4 linked regions of the Homo sapiens genome follow. The protein of the gene in region 1 purifies or fractionates together with the protein of each later gene. This does not show direct contact. Each region holds a gene or a part of one and is shown in the gene's direction. Other genes may lie near its edges.

Region 1 (3,500 bases):
TTATCCCCTTTACATGAAATTTTATATTTAAATTTTAATGATTTATATGTAAAATGTACGAGATTAAAAGCCTGATAAGACTTATAGCATGGTTTTTTTTGTTTTTTGTTGTTGTTGTTTTTTTTTTTTCGAGACAGGGACTCACTCTGTTGCCCAGGCTGGAGTGCAGTGGCGTGATCTCAGCTCACTGCAACCTCCATCTCCTGGGCTGAAGCAATTCTCCCTCCTCAGCCTCCTGAGTAGCTGGGACTACAGGCGTGCACCAGTAGGCCTGGATAATTTTTCTATTTTTAGTAGAGACGGGTTTTCTCTGTGTTGGCCTGGCTGGTCCCAAACTCCTGTCCTCAGGTGATCCACCACCTCAGCCTCCCAAAGTGCTGGGATTACAGGCATGAGCCACTGCACCCGGTCTATGGCATGGATTTTATTTTTTTTTTAAATAAACTCTCACACTTATTATCAGATACGTGTTTAAAATAAAAAATTTGGAAACAACCTAACTCAGTTCCTGAGTATAAAACTGGCTAAATAAATTATGGTATATCCATCAGTGGACTGCCAGGCAGCCTTTAAAAGAAAAAAAAATAAAAAGATAACCATCATATATATTGATGATTTATATGAAGCAAACTCCAAAGCAGTTTATTGAGTGAAAAAACAAAGTGTAAAACATTATTATGTTATGTGGTATGCTATTGTGTGTGTTTTTATCAATCTATGTATGTGCAAAGAATATGTATTCTGTATACAAAGAATATCTCTGTAAGGGTAAGCAATTGCCCATAGATTTCGCATCTGGGCTGAGAAAAGTGGGTAATTGAGGAGAAGGAGATGGGAAGGAGACTGGTTACCCTTATTGTACTGGTACCTTGTAAATTAATTAAAGAGTAATCTTAAACTTTTTTGCCCCTTCATTTGTTAGGTTGGCCGCCTTGAAAATGCAATCGGGTGGTATCATAGCCACCCTGGCTATGGCTGCTGGCTTTCTGGGATTGATGTTAGTACTCAGATGCTCAATCAGCAGTTCCAGGAACCATTTGTAGCAGTGGTGGTAAGAATTTTAAAACCAGTTTAATTAAGTTCTTTATGAAGATTTGCTGAAGCAAGTATACTGAGAAATAAGAATAGTGTAGTAAAGAGAAATTGCTCTGGTATCAGTCTGCCTAGGTTTCAATGTGAATTCCATCTCTTAGAAGCTGGGACTTTGAGCAAATTATTTAACCACTGTGTATCTTGCTTCTCCCCTCTGTAAATTGTGGGTAGTCATAGCATCTATGTCTCAGTGCCAGCTCATCATAGGCATTCAATCAGTGTTGACTGAACTGAGTTAAGCAGGAATTGCTAGAGCAGCTCTTATTATGTTCAGGGTGTTTTAAGTGCAATCCAGGTTTTATGAGGAAGGTAGGAGTTATTCACCTCTTAAAAGGACAAAAGAAAACTTTTTAAAAATAGATGAGCAAACCTTCAAATAATATTCTTAAATGTTATAATAATTTGAATCTCTAAGTTAGCTGTGAGACACTTATATTACCCTCTTACTGAACTTTTATGGTTTTTTGGTTTATTCTTATTTGGTTATTATGTATGTATATAGTGTTATATGTATGTATACATTTCTAGGTTTATAATGTTTAAATAAAAGGCATACAGTTTTATATCAGCAGATATTAAATATATCTTTCTTATAGATTGATCCAACAAGAACAATATCCGCAGGGAAAGTGAATCTTGGCGCCTTTAGGACATACCCAAAGGTAACTTTTTTTTTTTTTAAGAGTTAGAGTCTCACTGTGTTACCTAGGCTGGAGTACAGTGGCTATTCACAGGCATGATCATAGTGTACTACAGCCTTCATCGCCTAGGCTCAAGCCAACTCAGCCTCCCAAGTAGCTGGGACGGTAGGAATGCTTAGTAATTTTTAAAATTATAAGTCCTTACATTTTTTAAATTCCAAATATTTGACTTATTATTAAAGACATTAGCAATATCTCTTGTTATTAAAACAATTCAATAATATTTACAAAATAGTAAACTACCACAAGCTGTCCCTAGCAAAGGGTAATACATTTATGTTATATATTGTTAATTTTACTGGAAAAGCAGTCTTTATTTATTAATAAGTATCTGTGTGCCTGTGGCATTCTGCCAGGTACTAGAGAAAAAACAAGCTAAATCTATAGGTCTATTTCCTTCCCTGGCAGGAGGCCGCAATCTGAAATAGTTATTAGAACAAAAGTACATCACCTAAGGAGAAGAAAAATAAATCTGTAAGCAAAATCCAGCCTACAGCCACCAAACTGGGTGGGGGGAAAGTAGAAACAGTATTTTTTTTTTATTAGAATGCTCATGTTAAATATTTGCCTCCGAAAGTTAATAATCCTATTATTAGAAAGCTCCATAGAAAACATGTTTTTCTCATTTTTATATATATATATATATATATATATATATATATATATATATATATATATATATATATATTTTTTTTTTTTTTTTTCTTAATCTTCTGTTTACCTCATTTTTGTTTAGGGCTACAAACCTCCTGATGAAGGACCTTCTGAGTACCAGACTATTCCACTTAATAAAATAGAAGATTTTGGTGTACACTGCAAACAGTAAGTAATTTAAAAACATATCTGGGCCAGGCACGGTGACTCACACCTATAATCCCAGCACTTTGGGAAGCCACAGTGAGAGGATTGCTTGAGGACAGGAATTCGACACTAGCCTGGGCAACATAGTGAGACCCCATCTCTACAAAAAATGTTATAAAAGTTAGCCAGATGAAGTGGCACAGTCCTGTAGTCCCAGCACTCAGGAGGCCTAAAGAAACCTTAGATATCAACCAGTCCAAGCCCCTTATTTTACAGATGAGACAAAAGGCATAGACAAAATGCATTTCATGATAGCTTTTACAATAATAGTATATGAATTTAGGTAAATGTTTGCATTTTTAAATTTTTTTCTTTTGCATTTTTTATTAATGTTTCAAACTAGCATGTCATTTGCCTTTTAAACAACCTAAACTTTTTCTAATGTACAAGATATTTGGCCTACATAAAATTATAACAAGTGAAAGATGGGTTCAGGACCAGCTGACACTAGCATGTCTGCAGCCCTCAAAATATATAATTTCTACTGAACAAAGATTCTTTCTAATCTTTGAAAGATTTGAAAGACTAAAGAAGCCATATTAAAAAGTCAAAGTTATAAAAGTGTAAGAATTCTTACTAAAAACCACTGTATTACATACCCTCCCCCCACCCCCAAGACATAGTCTTGCTCTGTTGCCCAGGCTGGAGTGCAGTGGCGTGATCTTGGCTCACTGCAACCTCCGCCTCCTAGGTTCAAGCAATTCTCCTGCCTCAGCCTCCCAAGTAGCTGGGATTATAGGTGTGTGCCACCACACCTAGCTAATTTTTGTATTTTTAGTAGAGACAGGGTTTCACCGTGTTGGCCAGGCTGGTCTCAAACTCCTGACCTCGTGATCCACCCGCCTC
Region 2 (3,500 bases), on another chromosome or scaffold:
GACTGTACATGGACAGCACAGAGTGGCGTCTTGAGCCTGGGAGCCGTGGAGTTCTCCCCACCCCATACAGACCTGGCCAAACGCGGGTTCATAGCCGGCTCTTGGGGAGGCACCAGCAGCCTTTCTCTGCTCACCGCACCCTCCTGCCTGTGGCGATATCGAAGATCTGAGCCACTGAGTGGGCCCCATAGGCAGCCTGAGCTTCACACGGGGCAGAACCCCCAGCGTCCTCACAGCCACCGCTTTCCCAGCTGGGGCCACCCCTGCTGCCTCCTAACGCTCCTCCCACGCTCCTGCTGTTCCTGGGCCTCCATGCCCTTCCCCATGGACGTGGCGGCTCAGATGACCCCACAGGGCTTCCCTGGGCCTTGCGTTCCTGATGGGACCACGCTCCTCTCTCTTCTCTCACTCAGTGGGGGCTGTTCGGCCATTTGGTCCTCGTCTGTCTCCCTCAGTGAGGCCAGGCCCTGTGCCTGTAGCTGACTCCCTGGGAAAGCTTGTGCTGATGAGGGAATGCGTGAGCAGGAGAGTGATAGAGAGTAGACGAGTGTGAATGAATGAGTGAATAATGAGACTAAGTGGATGAGTGCATGTGGGAATGAACGAATGTGTGTGTGTGTGAATGGGTGAGTGAATGAGTGTGCGATGAATGAGAAAGTGAATGAATGCATGTGTCATAAATGAGCAAGTGAATGCATGCCCACGGGAATGAATCAGTGGATCAATGAATGCATGTGTGGATGAATGAATGAGTGCATGTGTATGAGTTGAGTGAATGTACATGGAAATTAGTTAATGAATGAATATGTGAATGAATGAGTGAATGAACGCCTGTGTGAATGAATGCATGTGAATGAGCGAGTGAATGCATGCATGAATGAACGTATGTGTGAATGCATGTGTGAATGAACACGTGTGAATAAATGCATGCATATGGGAATGAGTGAATGAGTGCGTGCCTGACGCCTGGAAGGAAAGAGAGAGGATGGTGAGGGCTGGCAGAGCGTGAGGCCCTGTGTGGCCCAGGGCATGGTCCTAGCCCTGCCTGTCCTTGCCGTGGGTCCGTCTGCATCACCCTCCTGCTGTCCCAGGCCCCTTCCAGAAGCCTCTGCCATCGGGGGGCCTGGTACATGCCTGCTGGAGGCTGGCAGGGAGCCCTAGTGGGGTGGTCACCCAGGATACCGGGCTGGCCCTCCCGGCCGTGGGGTGGCGGCCACGGGCTTAACCAGGGCCTTCTCTCTCCCGTACCAGGTTCGTGCTGGCCGTGGGCAGCGCCGTCTTTGATGCCATGTTCAACGGGGGAATGGCCACAACATCCACGGAGATTGAGCTGCCCGACGTGGAACCCGCTGCCTTCCTCGCACTGCTCAAGTAATGCTTCCGGATGCTTCCTGCTGGGGAGCTGGGCCTGGGGAGGGGGACCTCAGAGAACGTAGACCCTGTCTGACACCAGCTCAGAGGCCCTGGCTTGGTGGAGATTTCTAGAACGTTCCTGTGCAATGAGGGGTTCCAGAGGCACTTTTTTTTTTCTTTTTGAGATGGAGTCTCGCTCTGTTGCCCAGGCTGGAGTGCAGTGCCGTGATCTTGGCTCACTGCAACCTCAGTCTTCCAGGTTCAAGTGATTTTCCTGCCTCAACCTCCTAAGTAGCTGGGACTACAGGCTCGTGCCACCACGCCCGGCTAATTTTTTTGTATTTTTAGTAGAGATGGGGTTTCACTGTGTTAGTCAGGATGGTCTCGATCTGACATCATGATCCACCCACCTCAGCCTCCCAAAGTGCTGGGATTACAAGCCTGAGCCACCGCGCCCAGCCCAGAGGCACCCTTTTTATTTTATATTTTTTAGACGTGGTCTTGCTCTGTTGCCCAGGATGGAGTGCAGTGGTGTGATCTCAGCTCATTGAGACCTCCGACTTCCTGGTTCAAGTGATTCTCCTGAGTACCTGGGATTACAGGTGTTCACCACCACACCCAGCTCATTTGTGTGTTTTTCAGTAGAGACAGCGTTTCTCTATGTTGGCCAGGCTGGTCTCAGACTCCTGGCCTCAGGTGATCCGCCTGCCTCAGCCTCCCAAAGTGCTGGGATTACAGGCATGAGCCACTGTGTCCAGCCAGTTCCCTGCTTTTCTTTTTCTTTTCTTTTCTTTCCTTCTTTTTTTTTTTTTTTTTGACAGTTTTGCTCCTGTTGCCCAAGCTGGAGTACACAAACAAAAAATAACAACAACAACAAAAAAAAGGAAACATCAGTGAAAGAAATTTAAAAAGACACAATAAATGGAAACACATCCCATGTCCATGGATTGAAGAGAATATTGTTAAGATGTCCACACAACCCACTGCGATCTGCAGTCAGTATAATCCTATCAGAATTACTGTTTTTTGCAAAAATAGAAAAACTATCCTAGAATTCATATGGAATCCCAAGGGACCCTGAATAGCCACAACGATCTTGAAAAAGAACAAAGTTGGAGGGCTCATACTTTCTGATTTCAAAACTCACTGCAAAGCTACAATCATCAAAACAGTGTGGTACTGGCGTAAGGACAGAACGTGGGGACCAATGGAATGGAACAGAGAGCTCAGAAATAAATACCTTTGCACATAGGGTTAAATAATTTTTTGCAAGGGTGCCAAGGCCATTCAACAGAAAAGAGAGTTTAACAAATAGCACAGGCACAACTAGAAATACACATGCAGAAGAATGAAGTTAGACCCTTACCTTACTGTATATAAAAATTAACTCAAATAGATCAAAGTCCAGGCTGGGCACGGTGGCTCACGCCTGTAATCCCAGTACTTTGGGAGGCTGAGATGGGCGGATCACGAGATCAGGAGATTGAGACCATGCTGGCTAACATGGTGAAACCTCGTCTCTATTAAAAATAGAAAAAATAAATAAAAAATAAGAAAATTAGCCGGGCATGGTGGCGGACGCCCGTAGTCGCAGCTACTTGGGAGGCTGAGGCAGGAGAATGGCGTGAACCCGGGAGATGGAGGTTGGAGTGGACTGAGATCATGCCACTGCACTCCAGCCTGGGCGACAGAGCGAGACTCTGTCTCAAAAAAAAAAAAAATAGATCAAAGTCCAAAATGTAAGATCTAGACCTGTAAAATACTTAGAAGAATCCAAAGTGGCCAGGCGCAGTGGCTCAGGCCTGTAATCCCAGCACTTTGGGAGGCCGAGGTGGGTGGATCATGAGGTCAGGAGATCGAGACCATCCTGGCTAACACGGTGAAACCCCGTCTCTACTAAAAATACAAAAAAATTAGCCGGGCATGGTGGCAGGCGCCTGTAGTCCCAGCTACTCAGGAGGCTGAGGCAGGAGAATGGTGTGAACCCAGGTGGCAGAGCTTGCAGTGAGCTGAGGTCATGCCACTGCACTCCAGCTTGGGCAACAGAGCAAGACTCCCTCTCAAAAAAAAAAAAAAAAAAAAGAATCCAAAGTATGGCTAGGCGCGGTGGCTCACACCTGTAATCCCAGCACTTTGGGAGGCTGAGG
Region 3 (3,500 bases), on another chromosome or scaffold:
CCTAGGCTCAAGCAATCCTCCTGCCTCGGCTTCCCGAGCAGCTGGGATTATAGGCATCAGCCACTGCACCCAGCCCTGGATAATTCTTGCTGAAGAATGTGTGGAAGCTGCCCTGCGCATTGTAGGGTGGTTAGCAGCATCCCTGGCTTTTACCCACTAGGCGCTAGTAGCAGCCTACCCCTCCTTCTCCCGAGCTGTGACAAACAAAAATGTCTCCAGACATTGCCAGATGTCCCCTGGTGGGCAAAATAATCCTTAAGAAGCACTGATCTACAAACTGTGATGCATACTGGGTTTTATATTATTACTAGATAAAATTGTCTCTAATGGCCAGGTGCGGTAATCCCAGCACTTTGGGAGGCCGAGATGGGCAGATCACAAGGTCAGGAGTTCGAGACCAGCCTGGCCATTATGGTGAAACCACATCTCTACTAAAAATACAAAAATGAGCCAGGCATGGTGGCATGCGCCTGTAGCCCCAGCTATTCGGGAGGCTGAGGCAGAAGAATCGCTTGAACCCAGGAGGCAGAGGTTGCAGTGAGCCGAGATTGTGCCATTGCACTCCAGCCTGGGTGACAGAGCAAGACTCCATCTCAAAAAAAAAAAAAAAAGTCTCTAATTCTCACTGTATACCATTACCACTTTGGTGCCATTTGTCCCAGTCCATGTCACCATATCCTGTTTACTTTCAAATCTGTCTCTTTAGGCTCAATTTCTCTCTGTATTCTCAGACCCGTATTTCCCATTGCCTGCATCTTGAGATTGATTTGTTCAAAATCAGACTTACTCTCCTCTCCCCAAAGTGTTCTTCCTTTATTCTTAGTCTCCCTGCTCATGACTCTACCAGTTATTCACTTAACCTTTCTCAACTCCTCTCTCCACCTCTCCCATGAAATTTGCTGCCTAAATCTAAATCCAGGCTCCGCTATCCCAAGTACCATGTCCATAATGTGTAAGCGAGTTCATCTCACCTGGCTTGCCACTGCAGTTCTTACTTGTCACCCCATGCCGCTGCCTTTCAGGTGCCCTTTCTTAGCAGCTCTAATCATGTCACTCCTCGCACACCCAGAGTCCTCATGATCATGCCCTGTCTGCCTCTGCAGGCTCATCCCCCCCATTTCTTGAACTTCAGGCTCTGGCCATACCAAACAGCCTGCAGGCCCCCCGCCCCCACTGCCTTACGTGGCATTTTCTTTTTTTTTTTTTTGAGACGGAGTCTCGCTCTGTTGCTCAAGGCTGGAGTGCAATGGCGCTATCTCGGCTCACGGCAACCTCCACCTCCCGGGTTCAAGCGATTCTCCTGCCTCAGCCTCCCAAGTAGTGGGGATTGCAGGCGCCCACTACCATGCCTGGCTAATTTTTGTATTTTTAGTAGAGACGGGGTTTCTCCATGTTGGTCAGGCTGGTCTCAAACTCCCAACCTCAGGTGATCCACCCGTCTCGGCCTCCCAAAGTGCTGGGATTACAGGTGTGAGCCACTGCACCCGGCCTAATTTTTGTATTTTTAGTAGAGTTGGGGTTTCGTCATGTTGGTCAGGCTGGTCTCAAACTGCTGACCTCAGGTGATCTGCCCACCTCAGTCTGCCAAAGTGCTGGGATTACAGGCGTGAACCACCACGCCGGGCTTGCCTGACATTTTCATTCTTCAGACTGCACTTATCTCCCTCCCCCACCTCCAGCCCAGGCATGTGGAGCAGTCACTCCCTTCTCTCCCACCACACCTGGAGAGACCTGGGTCTTCATCCTTATCCTGTGCTGCAGGGGTTGGTCTGTGCATCTGTCTCCCATATTAAACAATCGGTGCCTCCAAGCCAGGTAGCACAGCTTATTATCTCTGCCCACTCCCCAGTGCCTCACATGGAGTGGGCGCTTTGTAAATGTGTGTGGAGTAGTAAGTGGAAATAACCCAGAGCAGAAAGAAGCTACCTGGGACTTAAATGTAAAGTAGCCACAGGTTTTGTTTTGCTTTGCTTCAGTTCAGCAAAAATTTACTAAGCACCAACTAGGTCATGGATGCTAGGAATAGAAAAAAGAACAAAGTAGGATGTTTGCCTTACAGAATTCACCTCACGTCCAGTATGAGATGGGAGTATGAACAAACAGTCATGCAGAGTGATGAGTGCAAACATGGACTATAAAGCGGCCATAGAGAATGAACTGTGTTTGTGTTTAGAGAAGACACACTCCCCACCCCTGAACAGGCTTCTTAAAAGTACTAGAAAGGTACTGTCTTTGTCCTAGCCTTTAAACTCTTACTGTATTTGGAAGGCTTCTATTAGTATGTGACTTTTTAAATGATTTTTTTTTTTGAGACGGAGTTTCACCCTTTTGCCCAGGCTGGAGTGCGGTGGTGCAATCTCAGCTCACTGCAACCTCCGCCACCTGGGTTCAAACGATTCTCCTGCCTCAGCCTCCCAAGTAACCGGGATTACAGGCACCAGCCACCACACCCAGTGAACTGTTGTACTTTTAGTAGAGACGGGGTTTCACCACGTTGGCCAGGCTGATCTCAAACTCCTGACCTCAGGTGATCCACCCGCATCGGCCTCCCAAAGTGTTGGGATTACAGGCGTGAGCCACCACATCCGGCCTTTAAAATGATTTTTGCTTGACCTTGCTAACTATATTACTTGAGGTTGGCAGGCTCCCTTACCAGATTGCAGTGCCTGTATGAGTTAGGGGTGAACACATGCTCTCCCTGGCCCAAATTGGCATTCGCCAGTGATTTTATCATCGGCTGCGTCCTGCTGATTGTGCAGCCCCCTATTGAGAATAATGGTGTGAGTGGGACACAGTCCTGCCTCCTGTGGGTGATCTGAAGTCTTTGACTCACCAGTTCGTGTGTTCTTTGCTGTATTCATGCATTGTTACATAATTCAACAAATTAGAATCATTTCATATACAGAATATGCACTCTAAAGAAATTTTGACCTTTTTATAGAGTTGGTAATAATAATAATCTTTATGTCAGTAGAGTTTATTTTTCCTATCAGTCTTTTTCTCTTTTTGAGATGGGGTCTCACTCTATTGCCCAGGCTGGTCTCAAACTCTGGGCTCAAGAGATCCTCCCACTTCAGCCTCCCAAAAGTGCTGGGATTACAGGCATGAGCTACTGCACGCAGCCATTTTCCTACCAGTCTTAACACTGGCCACACGTGCTTCCCTTCCTGTGCGCAGTCCCTTTCAGCTTGTAACTTAACTATTAATAAATACAACTGTATTCTTTAGCTGGGGTATAAGATAACTGATCCATAGGGAAACCCACACATGGTGTTCAGGAGCCATTGTTTAGGACAATGAATAAGATAAAAGTTTTGGAGCCGGGCTTGGTGGCCCACGCCTGTAATCCCAGCACTTTGGGAGGACGAGGCAGGTAGATCACTTGAAGCCAGGAGTTCTTGAGCAGCCTGGCCAACATGGTGAAACCCCATCTCTACTAAAAATACAAAAATTAGCTGGGTGTGGTGGCAGGTGCCTGTAGTCCCAGCTACTCGGGAGGC
Region 4 (3,500 bases), on another chromosome or scaffold:
GTGTTTGAATTAGATAAGAAAGTACAAATGATATAGTGTGTGTTATATAAATGGTTAGTTTTTTTTTTTTTTTATGCTTAACGGGTAAGTTTCACTTTTCTTAGGAGAAAAACAAAACCCACTGTTTAATGCAGGACGAATGAAATGTTTTTAAATCCTTATTTTTCCCTTTTCCTTTGTAGACAATACTGTCAGAGTTCAAGACACAGATTGGAAAGAAGTAGGTATTTTTAAATATTAAGACTAATGTCCATAACACAGAAATGACTAGTGAATTAATATATTAAGGGTATATTTTCACTTTTATATGATGTAGTGAAATCTGTTTTAATTTATTGCTAAATTTCAGTAAATGAAAATGTTTTCAACTTTTACTTTAGACTCAATCCTTATTATAATTATATGGAAAAAAATGTTATCATTGTGTTATTTTTCATCTTTATTATAAAACATTCTTTTTTGCAACAAAATTTAAATGAGTTGTCTGTGCTGGAGTAGTCATCAGCTGTTCAGCTAGTTAAGATAGTACCTTATGAAAAGAATATATTGTATTGTTTCATAAGGTACTATTCTAATGTCTCTATAACAAAAACTGCAAGGTGGAGCAGCAAGTGCTGATGGAAAAGCTGCTGCAAGTTATCCAGAAGATGTAGCTAAAATCACTGATGAAGGTGGCTGCATTACACAACAGATTTTCAGTGTAGGTGAGACAGCTTTCTATTGGAAGAAGACGCCATCTATTTCATAGCTAGAGAGAAGTAGTCAGTGCCCAGCTTCAAAGGACAGGCTGACTCTTTTGTTAGGGGCTAATGCAGTTGGTGATTTTTGAAGCCAGTGCTTGTTGACCATTCTGAAAATCCTAGGGCCCTTAACAATTATGCTAAATCAGGCCGGGTGTGGTGGCTCACGCCTGTAATCCCAGCACTTTGGGAGGCCGAAGTGGGCGGATCACCTGAGGTCAGGAGTTGGAGACCATCTTGGCTAACACGGTGAAACCCTGTCTCTACTAAAAATACAAAAAATTAGCCGGATGTGGTGGTGTGGACCTGTAATCCCAGCTACTCAGGAGGCTGAGGCAGGAGAATCGCTTGAACCCAGGAGGTGGAGGTTGCAGTGAGCCAAGATCGCTCCATTGCACTCCAGCCCAGGAGACAGTGTGAGACTCTGTCTCAAAAAACAAACAAAAAAACAACAAAAAAAGGAATTATGCTAAATCTGTGCCTTTGCTCTGTAAATGGAACAACAAAGCCTGGATGACAGTACATCATTTATGGCATGGTTTACTGAATATTTCAAGTCCACTATTGAGGCCTACTGCTTATAAAAAATACTCCTTTTAAAATACTACTGCTCATTGACAATGCAGCCAGTCATCCCAGAGCTCTGATGGAGATGTTCAAGGAGATTAACGTTTTCATGTCAGCAAACAACTGCATTCTGAAGCTCATGGATCAAGGAATAATTTTGACTTTGAATCTTATTATTTAAGAAATACATTTTGTCAGGCCATAGTTGCCAGAGATGGTGATTCCTCTGATGGATCTGGACAAAGGAAATTGAAAACCTTTTGGAAAGGATTTAGCCTTCTAGATGCCATTAAGCATACTGAGGATTCATGGGGGAGATAAAAATATCAACAGGAGTTTGGAAGTTGATTCCAATCCTCGTGGATGACTTTGAGGGGTTCAAGACTTCAGTGGAGGAAGTGCAGATGTGATGGACCTAGCAAGAGAGCTAGAATTAGAAGTGGAGCCTGAAGATGGGACTGAATTGCTGCAGTCTCACAGTCAAACTTGAATGGATGAGAACTTGCTTCTTACGGATAAAGAGAGAAAGTGGTTTCTTTTTTTAAAAAAATGTCAATAGTTTTTGGGGTACAGGTGGTTTTTGGTTGCATAGATGAGTTCTTTAGTGGTGATTTCTGAGATTTTAGTGCACCCGTCACCCAAGCAGTGTACAACTGTACCCAATATGTAGTCTTTTAGCCGTCACCTCCCTCCCAGCCTTTCCCCCTAAGTCCCCAAAGTCCATTATGTCATTCTTATGCCTTTGCATCCTCATAGGTTAGGTCTCACAAGATTTGGTTTTCCATTCTAGAGTTACTTCACTTAAAATAATGGCCTCCAGCTGCATCCAAGTTGCTGCAAAAGACATTATTTCATTCCTTTTTATGGCTGAGTAGTATTCCATGGTGTATATATGCCACATTTTCTTTATCAGTGGTTTCTTGGAATGGAATCTATTCCTGGACAACAAAGGATTTCGAATATTACATAAATTTAGTTGACAAAACAGAAGCAAGGTTTGAGAAGGTTGACTCTGATTTTGAAAGTTTTACTGTGGGTAAAATGCCATCAAACAGCATCGCATGTACAGAGAAATCTTTCATGAAAGGAAGAGTGAGTCAATGTGACAAACTTCACTGTTGTATTATTTTAAGAAATTGCCACAGCCACTTCAGCCTTTAGCAACCAGCACCCTGATCTGTCAGCAGCAACGAACATGGAGGCAAGACCCTCTATTAGCAAAAAGATTGCAACTTGCTAAAGGCTCAGGTGATTGTTAGCATATTTTTAAATTAAGGTATGTACATTGTCTTTTTAGATACAATGCTATTGCACACTTACTATAGTGTAAACATAGCATAGCATTTATATACACTGGGAAACCAAAAAAATTTGTGTGACTTGGTTTATTGCATTGGTTTGGGACTAAATCCACAATATGTCTGAGGTGTGCCTATAGATCTTTACTATGAAAGCAAATTAGAACTAAAGGGAAACATCCAGATCACTTACCTTATCTTGTTCTTTTATTTTTCTTTTTTCTACAGCTGTACAGGAAGAGGCACATACAAAGAAAAGAATCCCCGAAAGGGCGGTTTGTGATGCTCCTGCCATCGTCAACTCACACCATTCCATTCTATCCCAACCCCTTGCACCCTAGGCCATTTCCTAGCTCCCGCCTTCCTCCAGGAATTATCGGGGGTGAATATGACCAAAGACCAACACTTCCCTATGTTGGAGACCCAATCAGTTCACTCATTCCTGGTCCTGGGGAGACGCCCAGCCAGTTTCCTCCACTGAGACCACGCTTTGATCCAGTTGGCCCACTTCCAGGACCTAACCCCATCTTGCCAGGGCGAGGCGGCCCCAATGACAGATTTCCCTTTAGACCCAGCAGGGGTCGGCCAACTGATGGCCGGCTGTCATTCATGTGATTGATTTGTAATTTCATTTCTGGAGCTCCATTTGTTTTTGTTTCTAAACTACAGATGTCAACTCCTTGGGGTGCTGATCTCGAGTGTTATTTTCTGATTGTGGTGTTGAGAGTTGCACTCCCAGAAACCTTTTAAGAGATACATTTATAGCCCTAGGGGTGGTATGACCCAAAGGTTCCTCTGTGACAAGGTTGGCCTTGGGAATAGTTGGCTGCCAATCTCCCTGCTCTTGGTTCTCCTCTAGATTGAAGTTTGTTTTCTGATGCTGTTCTTACCAGAT

Evidence for each region. Proteins that work in one complex are often made in the same cells at the same time.
Region 2: the proteins of COPS5 (region 1) and BTBD2 purify together in Homo sapiens (affinity purification with mass spectrometry; 6 studies listed by BioGRID and IntAct, with this or other methods). This does not show direct contact.
Region 3: the proteins of COPS5 (region 1) and DCAF4 purify together in Homo sapiens (affinity purification with mass spectrometry; 5 studies listed by BioGRID and IntAct, with this or other methods). This does not show direct contact.
Region 4: the proteins of COPS5 (region 1) and FBXO7 purify together in Homo sapiens (affinity purification with mass spectrometry; 4 studies listed by BioGRID and IntAct, with this or other methods). This does not show direct contact.

The regions. Positions count from the first base shown.
Region 1 is NC_000008.11:67,055,634-67,059,133, reverse strand, and holds part of COPS5 (COP9 signalosome complex subunit 5), read left to right. Parts: intron 1-922; coding exon 923-1,051; intron 1,052-1,688; coding exon 1,689-1,754; intron 1,755-2,529; coding exon 2,530-2,615; intron 2,616-3,500. UniProt on the Homo sapiens protein: Probable protease subunit of the COP9 signalosome complex (CSN), a complex involved in various cellular and developmental processes.
Region 2 is NC_000019.10:1,995,215-1,998,714, reverse strand, and holds part of BTBD2 (BTB/POZ domain-containing protein 2), read left to right. Parts: intron 1-1,251; coding exon 1,252-1,371; intron 1,372-3,500.
Region 3 is NC_000014.9:72,932,964-72,936,463, forward strand, and holds part of DCAF4 (DDB1- and CUL4-associated factor 4), read left to right. Parts: intron 1-2,059; exon of another isoform or gene 2,060-2,223; intron 2,224-3,500. UniProt on the Homo sapiens protein: May function as a substrate receptor for CUL4-DDB1 E3 ubiquitin-protein ligase complex.
Region 4 is NC_000022.11:32,495,311-32,498,810, forward strand, and holds part of FBXO7 (F-box only protein 7), read left to right. Parts: intron 1-182; coding exon 183-220; intron 221-2,833; coding exon 2,834-3,220; 3' UTR 3,221-3,500. UniProt on the Homo sapiens protein: Substrate recognition component of a SCF (SKP1-CUL1-F-box protein) E3 ubiquitin-protein ligase complex which mediates the ubiquitination and subsequent proteasomal degradation of target proteins and plays a role in several biological processes such as cell cycle, cell proliferation, or maintenance of chromosome stability.